2 linked regions of the Homo sapiens genome follow. The protein of the gene in region 1 purifies or fractionates together with the protein of each later gene. This does not show direct contact. Each region holds a gene or a part of one and is shown in the gene's direction. Other genes may lie near its edges.

The links. Proteins that work in one complex are often made in the same cells at the same time.
Region 2: the proteins of POTEA (region 1) and VPS9D1 purify together in Homo sapiens (affinity purification with mass spectrometry; one large-scale study listed by BioGRID and IntAct). This does not show direct contact.

The regions. Positions count from the first base shown.
Region 1 is NC_000008.11:43,336,747-43,341,631, forward strand, and holds part of POTEA (POTE ankyrin domain family member A), read left to right. Parts: intron 1-4,885.
Region 2 is NC_000016.10:89,713,616-89,718,500, reverse strand, and holds part of VPS9D1 (VPS9 domain-containing protein 1), read left to right. Parts: coding exon of another isoform or gene 1-55; intron 56-335; exon of another isoform or gene 336-1,157; intron 1,158-1,596; exon of another isoform or gene 1,597-1,678; coding exon 1,679-1,771; exon of another isoform or gene 1,772-1,876; coding exon 1,877-2,039; intron 2,040-4,885.

The DNA.
Region 1 (4,885 bases):
CACCCAAATCTCATGTCAAATTGTGATTCCCAGGTGTTGTGAGAAAGACCTGGTGGGAGGTGATTAGATCATAGGGTTGGTTTCCCCCATGCTGTTCTCATGATAGTGAATGAGTTTTCACAAGAGCTGATGGTTTCTTAAAGGGCTCTATCCCCTTCACTTCTCTCTCTCCTGCCACCTTATGAAGAAGGTGTCTGCTTCCCCTTCACCTTACCATGATTGTAAGTTTTCTGAGGCCTCCCCAGCCATGTGTAACTGTGAATCAATTAAGCTTCTTTCCTTTATGAATTACCCCATCTCAGATATTTCTTTGTAGCAGTGTGAAAATGGACTAATACAGAGAATTGGTACCAGGGATAGTGGGGTATTGTTAAAAAGATAATGTGAAAAGGTGGAAGTGACTTTGGAACTGAGTAACAGAGGTTTTAACAGTTTGGAGGGCTCAAAAGAAGACAGGAAGATGTGGGAAAGTTTGGAACTTCCTACAGACTTGTTGAATAGTTTTTTTTACCAAAATGCTGATAGTGATATGGCCAATGAAGTCCAGGCTGAGGTGATCTTAGGTGGAGATAAGGAACTTGTTGGGGACTGGAACAAAGGTGACTCTTGATATGCTTTAGCAAAGAGACTGACAGCATTTTGCCCCTGCACTAGCAATCTGTAAAACTTTGAACTTGAGAGAGATGATTTAGGCTATCTGGTAGAAGAAATTTCTAAGCAGCAAGGCATTCAAGAGGTGACCTGGTTGATTCTGAAAGCATTCAGTTTTATGCATTCACAAAGAGATGGTTTTAAGCTGGGGCTTATGTTTAAAAGGGAAGCAGAGCATAAATTTGGAAAATTTGTAGCCTGACCATTTGGTAGAAAAGAGAAACAACACATTTTCTATGGACGAATGCAAGTTGGCTGCAGAAATTTGCATAAATAACGAGGAGCGGAATGTTAATTGCCATGAAATGGAGAAAGTGTCTTTAGGGCATGACAGAGATCTTCGTGGCAGCCACTCGCATCACAGGCCCAGAGTCCTGGAAGGAAAAAATGGTTTCATAGGTTTGGGTCCAGGGCCCTGGTACTGTGTGCAGCCTCAGGACTTGCTGCCCTGCATTCAGCCACTACAGGTCCAACTGTGGCTAAAAGGGACCAAGGAGAAACTTAGCCTTTATGAATTACCCAGTCTTCAGTATTTCTTTATAGCAGTGTGAAAATGGACTAATACACCCTCCCTGAAGACATTTTCCTGATTTCGTCTTTCATGTTTTATGTGCCACAGCTACTTTTGAAATTGTATTTAAAGGTAAACATTATTATATTGAATAATAGAAACAGAAATATAGCCCAAATCTAATTGTGATTTTCATGTTTAACAGTCATTTCTCATATTCAGTGGACTCCAGCTTTTTAATATAGCATTCAAGTGTAGTGTAGATTCATCTCCTATTCTTAGCTTCCAAGTATTTTACACTTTTCCTTTCAAGTTCTTAGTAAGCATCTAGACTTCATGTGCTTAATCTTTGTGCTCACATTCTGTTCTCTAACTGGAAGGATTTTCTCTCACTGTTTTTCCCTAGTGGGCCCTTCTTATATTTTGCCTCTTCTCTAAAGCCTTCCTTGTGCTAAAATATAACTTTTTAATATATCAACTCTTACAGAACACAATGTATTATAATTGTATATTACCTTGTTTTTGAAGCAGGGGATGCACATTTCCTTTTATGTTGTTTGTAGTTCTAAACATTTAAAAAATTAATCAGTGCAATGAGATGGAAAACAGTTGGAGTTTTACAAAAATTGTGGTTTTTTTGTTCATTGTCAATAGAGTTATTAGGAAACATTGGCTTTTTATAGAGTTTTTAAAGTAGAGCTTTTGCCTTGCATATGAAGAAAGAAACATGAAAATAAAAAACGGACCTCAAAATAATCTGTGATTACACCCATATTTGAGAAGGCCAATTTACTAACTCATGGTCTGCAACAAGTAAATGATGATAGCAGTTTAAGTGAAATAGATGGTAAAGAAGGTAAAATTTATAAGTCCTTTATAAGAAATATCTGGGAACACCCCCTCAAAAAGTGGGCAAAGGATATGTGCAGACACATCTCAAAAGAGGACATTTACGTGGCCAAGAAACATGAAGAAAAGCTCATCATCACTGATCATTAGAAAAATGCACATCAAAGCCACAATGAGGTACCATCTCATGCCAGTTAGAATGGTGATCATTAAAAAGTCAGGAAACAACAGATGCTGGTGAGCCTGTGGAGAAACAGGAACACTTTTACACTGTTGGTGGGAGTGTAAATTGGTTCAACCATTGTGGAAGACAGTGTGGTGATTCCTCAAGGATCTAGAACCAGAAATACCATTTGACCCAGCAATCCCATTAGTGGGTATATACCCAAAGGATTATAAATCATGCTACTATAAAGACACATGCACACGTAAGTTTATTGCGGTATTATTTACAATAGCAAAGACTTGTAACCAACCCAAATATCCATCAATGATAGACTGGATAAAAAAAGTGACAAATATAATCCATGGAATACTGTTCAGCCATAAAAAAGAATGAGTTCATGTCCTTTGCAGGGACATGGATGAAGTGAGAAACTATCATTCTCAGCAAACTAACATGGGAACAGAAAACCAAACACTGCATATTCTCACTCACAAGTGGGAGTTGGACAATAAGAGCACATGGACATAGGGAGGGGAACATCACACACTGGGGCCTGCCTGGGGGTGAGGGAGCAAGGGGAGGGAGAGCATTAGGACAAATACCTAGTGCATGCAGGACTTAAAACCTAGATGACAGGTTGATAGGTGAAGCAAATGACCATGGCACATGTATACCTTTGTAACAAACCTGCACGTTCTGCACATGTATCCCAGAACTTAAGGTTAAAAAAATTTTAAAGTCAAAAAAAAAAAAAAAAAGAAAGAACAAAAAAGAAAGAAAAGAAAATAAATCTCTAGGAAAGAACGTTAACACCAATTACTTTTCCTGGAACTAGAATAATATAGTCTCCTCAAACTGGAAATACTCAACTGTATCAGTGCTGTTGAAAGATTGATTATAATAAGGATTAGTGACTTTGACTAGGAGAAGTTTCAACAAATGATAGCCATGGAAATCTGTAGTGGATGAATGTAGACAACTCTTGAGAGAAAATTTGCTGGGAAAGGCAATATAGAAATGGGCAATAATTAAAAAAGAGTGTGGGATTTGAGGGAGTTTTCTCTCTTTGTGTTTCAAAACAGAAATTTTTAGAGTTTATTTTTTACTGTTGGGAATGATCCATAAGAGAAGAACATGGTTATGAAAGGTAATTTTGTTTGCTTGGTTGCATGTCTAAGCATTAGACAGCTTGATTCATTATCTTTTATGGATTTTTAGCAAACTAATTGCCCTTAGAACTTCTATTCATGTATAGTTTTATGATTAGAGTTGTTTTTTCAGAATTGGTTCAGAAGTGTAACATGTTAGTGTAACTGTACATGCCGATGATGACCTAAAACTTAAACTGTCATACACAGATTTTTAAAAAGAATTATAATAAACATTCACACACTTAGGCCATGCTGAATAGAATTTAAATGTTCCTTCATAATTGCACATCTTGCACTACCTTTGACAGTAGCATCATGAATAGCCATGATTTGCTTAGGTACTTACTCTAAAATATCAGGTGTATCAACTTTATGATTGTTTAGATTCTGGGGAGTAGGGAAGGATTTTGTTCATGAAGTTGAGAAAAGCAAACTATTGACAATCTATTGCAGATTATTACTTCAGGATTATAAACTCCTAAAGCATCAAAGCCATATTTTCCTGGGCCAGCAATGTTATCAGCATATATTGTATGCTCAATGAGTATTTGTTGAATGCATGAATAAACAGTTGAAGAAATAAATGAATGACATTGATAAATTTCTTTTAAAAACTAATTTTTAGTTTTTTGAAAGTAGTAGGTTTCCAAACTTGCCTCTGTATAAAGTCTTTATTTTTTAAAAAAGTGCAGGATTCATGTTCTCACTCATAGGTGGGAATTGAACAATGAGAACACATGGACACAGGAAGGGGAATATCACATACCAGGGACTGTTGTGGGGTGGGGGGAGGGGGGAGGGATAGCATTAGGAGATATACCTAATGCTAAATGATGAGTTAATGGGTGCAGCACACCAACATGGCACATGTATACATATGTAACAAACCTGCACGTTATGCACATGTACCCTAAACTTAAAGTATGTATATATAAAAAAAAGACACTGCAATTTTCAAAAGGTGAAAAAAAAGTGCAGGATTCAGAAATTATTAGTTATAGCCAAAAACAGAATGATAATCAGAAATTTTTAGTTATAGCCAAAAACAGAATGATAATATGGATTTGTCTGCTATCATATCTCTTAAAAACACTTGAATATAAATATTACCTTCACAGCATATTGCAAAACACATGTTTTGGAGGGAGAATTCTTGGATTTCAATGCTGTGTCAATTACTGACCAGCTCTATGGGCTGGGAAAATTTATATGGCCTTTCTGGGCCTAGTTTCTTTCTTTATAGAAGCCCTAATATTACCTACCTCAAAGAATTGTTATGATGATTAAAATGAGCTTGACACATGCACAGTGCTTAGAATGATGCATAGTGTCTGCATAATAAGTCCTGAAAAAGCTAATATTATCATTTAAAAAAGGGTTCCCCTCACATAAGAACATAAATAATGTTTTCCAAATAGGTTTCAGTGCCAGTAAAAGCTTGTTTTTATTGAAAAGGACAGCAATGAGAAGTCCTGGTATATGTCTTTCTATCACATAATATCAGTAACATGTTTTTCCTTTTGCCTTGACTGTCAGAAAGCTTGATCTAAATTCAAT
Region 2 (4,885 bases), on another chromosome or scaffold:
CAAGACACTGGCTCCAGTGAGCGGCACAGACGTGGGGCAGCATTCCAGCTGTGGGGTGTGCAAAGGCCCTGAAATAGGAGTGGGCGGGGTGGGGCTGTGTGCATGCCTTGGGTGGAACTGGGGCCGTTCTGGTGTGCAGGGAAACTTGAAGAGACTTTGAGCTTTGAGGGAGAGGACAGCCTGGGAGTGGAGCCTCAGGTGAGGACTGAGGATGGCAGTGGCCAGACCACCCAGGATGGGAGCAGTAAACGGCCTCGGGGTGCGTCCTGAAGGTGGAACAGAGCAGACTTGCAGGAGGCAGATGGGGCAGGAGCAAACTGGCAAGGAGAGGAATAGCAAGTTCCGCAATGAACACATTAAGTTTGAGAGGCCAGCAGCCGCTGCACAAAGGATCACAGAGGTCAGGGGGAGCCACTGGACATAGAGCACAGAGGTCAGGGGGAGCCACTGGACGTGGGATCACAGAGGTCAGGGGGACCCACTGGACGTGGGAGCACAGAGGTCGGGGGAGCCACTGGACGTGGGAGCACAGAGGTCGGGGGAGCCACTGGACGTGGGAGCACAGAGGTCGGGGGAGCCACTGGACGTGGGATCACAGAGGTCGGGGGAGCCCCTGGACGTGGGATCACAGAGGTCGGGGCAGCCACTGGACGTAGGATCACACAGGTCAGGGGGAGCTAACAGTTGCCCCAGCTCCCTAGGGAGCCGGTGAGCTCGGCTGAGCTCTGGCGCTCCAAGATTGAGGAGTTGGGTGGAGGAGTGGCAGAGGATCCCCTGGGGAGAGCAAAGTCCCAGAAGACAGAGGAACTCCAGTGGCCCACCGTGTCTGGCAAGGTGGGGACGGGTAAGGGCAGTTTCCGGGGGGAGTCGGGGGCTAAATCGGGGCGGGATGAGAAAATGGGAGTCTATGAGAAGTTTTCTGTGAAGGGCAGCAGGGAGGTGGGTCAGGCGCTGGGGCGGTGGGTCCAGGGGCGAGTCACAGAGAGGCAGCTCCCACGGCGCGCAGAAGGGCTGTGTGAGCAGGTCCATGGTCGCGCAGAGGTGCTCCATGCCAAGCTACGGGAAGGCAGGACTTTGGGGACACAGCCGGTGGGAGATGGGTGAGGCGATCCCCTCAGCACGTCCTTGTCTCTGTAAAACGGCCACTTCCCAGAGGCCTGCAGTTGCAAGTGAAGCTGAGTGAGCACTAAAGGCCTGTTTAGGGTCGAGGCTGTGACGGGCCTCGATGAGGGGCCCACAGCCTTAGCAGACTCAGGAGGCAAAACCAGGGCAGATGATTAGAAATGCGTGGGTGGGGGGACTTGCCTGGGGTCCATGGTGGGGGCAGGGGCCTTGCCTGGGGTCCATGAGGAATAGTCGGCTTGCCCGGGGTCAGTGGGGGGTGGAAGGGGCAGTGGGCTTACCCGGGGTGAGGGGATGGGGGGGCAGTGGGCTTGCCTAGGGTCAGTCAGTTGGGGGACGGGAGGGGCAGTGGGCTTACCCGGGGTGAGGGGATGGGGGGGCAGTGGGCTTGCCCAGGGTCAGTGAGGGGATGGGGGGGCAGTGGGCTTGCCCGGGGTCAGTGGGGGTGCTGAGGGGGGCAGTGGGCTTGCCTGCCTTTTCCGTTGCCTCATTTTATCTCAGCAGTAAGTAACAGTGGTAGAGCCGACTGTGACCAGCCTTCTTGTCCCTCCCCCAGAAGCTGGGGAAACTGTGCCCCCCGACACCTCCAAGATGCTGAAGCTAGCACAGCAGTGTCTGGAGAGGGCCCAGTCGACGGCCGCCAAGCTTGGTGGGTCTCCTGCAGTAGGCGGCTCTCCTGGGGCATCCCCCAAGCCCGCATCTCCTCTGTGGGATGTGGCCCACCGCTTGACCCCTGGTTACCCATGGCTTGCAGGGAAAACACGCCTGAAGCCAACCATGCCTGCAGCTGCTCCCATTCCCCAGCCTGCCGGCCGACACCGCCGTGTATACTCCGATGAAGGAGGAAAGCTCTCTCCTTTTCTGCCACCCGAGATCTTCCAGAAGCTTCAGGGGGCAGAGTCACAAAGCTGTAAGAAGTAAGATGGACAAGATGGGAGGTGGGATGAGCCTGGGATTGGGTTTTTGAGGCTGAGAAAGATGAGCTGATGACAGCGATTTTTTTTTTGTTTTTTGAGACAGAGTCTCACTCTGTCACCCAGGCTGGAGTGCAGCGGCTCAATCTTGGCTCACGGCAACCTCCACCTCCCGGGTTCACACCATTCTTCTGCCTCAGCCTCCCAAGTAGCTGAGACTACAGGCGCCCACCACCACACCCAGCTAATTTTTTGTATTTTTAGTAGAGACGGGGTTTTGCCATGTTAGCCAGGATGGTTTCGATCTCCTGACCTCGTGATGCGCCTGCCTCGGCCTCCCACAGTGCTGGGATTACAGCGTGAGTCACCGCGCCCGGCCCCCACAGTGCTGGGATTACAGGCATGAGCCACTGCGCCTGGCCTGACAGCGAATGTTTTTAAAATGAGTCCCAGAATGGGAATATCCCCTGGCCGGACACAAGCAAATGCAGGCGGCCTGGTGGCTCACGCCTGTAATCCCAGCACTGTAGGAGGCCGAGGCGAGCAGATCACCTGAGGTCAGGAGTTCCTGACCAGCCTGGCCAACATGGTAAAACCCCGTCTTTACTAAAAATACAAAAATTAGCTGGCCGTGGTGGTGTGCACCTGTAATCCCAGCTACTCAGGAGGCTGAGTCCAGGAGAATCGCTTGATCCTGGAAGGTGGAGGTTGCAGTGAGCGAAGATTGTGCCACTGCACTCCAGCCTGGGCAACAAGAGTGAAACTCCGTCTCAAAAAAAATTAGGCATAGTGGTGTGCCCCTGTAGTCCCAACTACTAGGGAGGCTGAGGTGGGAGGCTCACTTGAGCCTGACAGGTTGAGGGTGCAGTGAGCCGTGATTGTGCCAGTGCACTCCAGCTTGGGCAACAAAATGAGACTCTGTCTAAAAAAAAAAAAAATGACCGGGCGCGGTGGCTCACGCCTGTAATCCCAGCACTTTGGGAGGCCGAGGTGGGTGGATCATGAGGTCAGGAGATCGAGACCATCCTGGCCAACAAGGTGAAACCCCATCTCTACTAAAAATACAAAAAATTAGCTGGGCGTGGTGGCGGGCACCTATAGTCCCAGCTACTCAGGAGGCTGAGGCAGGAGAATCCCTTGAACCCAGGAGGCAGAGGTTGCAGTGAGTTGAGATTGCGCCACTGCATTCCAGCCTGGGCGACAGAGCAAGACTCCATCTCAAAAAAAAAAAAAAAAAAATTTAGCTGGGAACAAGGATGAGTTATATATCTATATATATGTAGAAATCCATACATACAAAACTGAGCAGACAAGTTTATAACAGCAGAGCAGATATAGCTGAAGAGCAAATTCATGTATTGGAAAAAAGGTCAAAAGATAGCTAGAATGAATTACAGAAACAAAAAATAAAGACAGAAAACAAGAGATGGAAAGCCTAACGTGTTCGTTGGAGTTCCAGAAAGAAAATGGGAGGGAGGCCAAGGCAGGCAGATCACAAGGTCAGGAGTTCAAGACCAGCCTGGCTAACATGGTGAAACCCCATCTCTACTAAAAATACAAAACTTAGCTGGGCATGGTGGCGCGTGCCTGTAACCCCAGCTACTTGGGAGGCTGAGGCAGGAGAATCGCTTGAACCCAGGAGGTGGAGGTTGCAGTGAGCCAAGATCGTGCCACTGCACTCCAGCCTAGCAACAGAGCGAGACTCCGGCTCAAAAAAAAAGAAGAAAGAAAATGGGAGAGAGGCATTATTAGAAGTTAGAATGGCAGACAGTTGTCTAGAACTGATGAAAGATACAAAGACACAAATGCAAAAAGCCCAGTGACTCCCAAGTGGGAGAGACGAGAAGGGTCCACTCCTCCTGCCCCTGCTCTGGCGGGGCCTGGCTTCCCAGTCCCCTTGTTTCTGCAATGTGGCTTCAGGGCAGGGTGGCCAGGCGTCAGGCTCTGACTTTCCTCCTTGTCCTCCATTGTCCCTGACAGTGGGAAGGTACGAGGGAACAAAGCTTTCAAGGTGGAGTGGCTGTTGGGAACTGTATAAAGGAGACAGGACACTTCTTCCTTTCATGGGTCACAGACTAATCTGGCTGTTTGACCCACATAGTGCCTTTAAAGCAGGGGTGTCCAATCTTTTGCCTTCCCTGGGCCACACTGGAAGAATTGTCTTGGGCCACACATAAAATACGCTAACACTAACAACAGCCGATGAGCTTAAAAAAAAAAATTGCAAGGCTGGGCGCAGTGGCTCCCGCCTGTAATCCCAGCACTTTGGAAGGCCAAGGCGGGCAGATTACCTGAGGTCAGGAGTTCGAGATCAGCCTGGCCAACATGATGAAACCCCATCTCTACTAAAAAATACAAAAATTAGCTGGGCGTGGTGTCACATGCCTGTAATCCCAGCTACTCGGGAGGCTGAGGCAGGAGAATCACTTGAACCCAGGAGGCGGAGGTTGCAGTGAGTTGAGATTGTGTCACTGCACTCCAGCCTGGGCGACAGAATGAGACTGACTCAAAAAAAAAAATTTTGCAAAAAAACCTCAGTGATTTTTTGAGACAGAGTCTCTATCACCCAGGCTGGAGCACAGGCACATGCCACCACACCCGGCTAATTTTTTGTATTTTTAATAGAGACGGGGTTTCACCATGTTAGCCAGGATGGTCTCAATCTCCTGACCTCATTATCCGCCTGCCTCATCCTCCCAAAGTGCTGGGATTACAGGCGTGAGCCACCGTGCCCAGCCCTCAGTGATGTTTTAAGAAAGTTTAGGAATTTGTGTTGGGCCACATTCGAAGTCATACAGCCTCGGATTGTTGCACAAGCTTGCTTTAACAAGATTCATACTGTTGCCAAA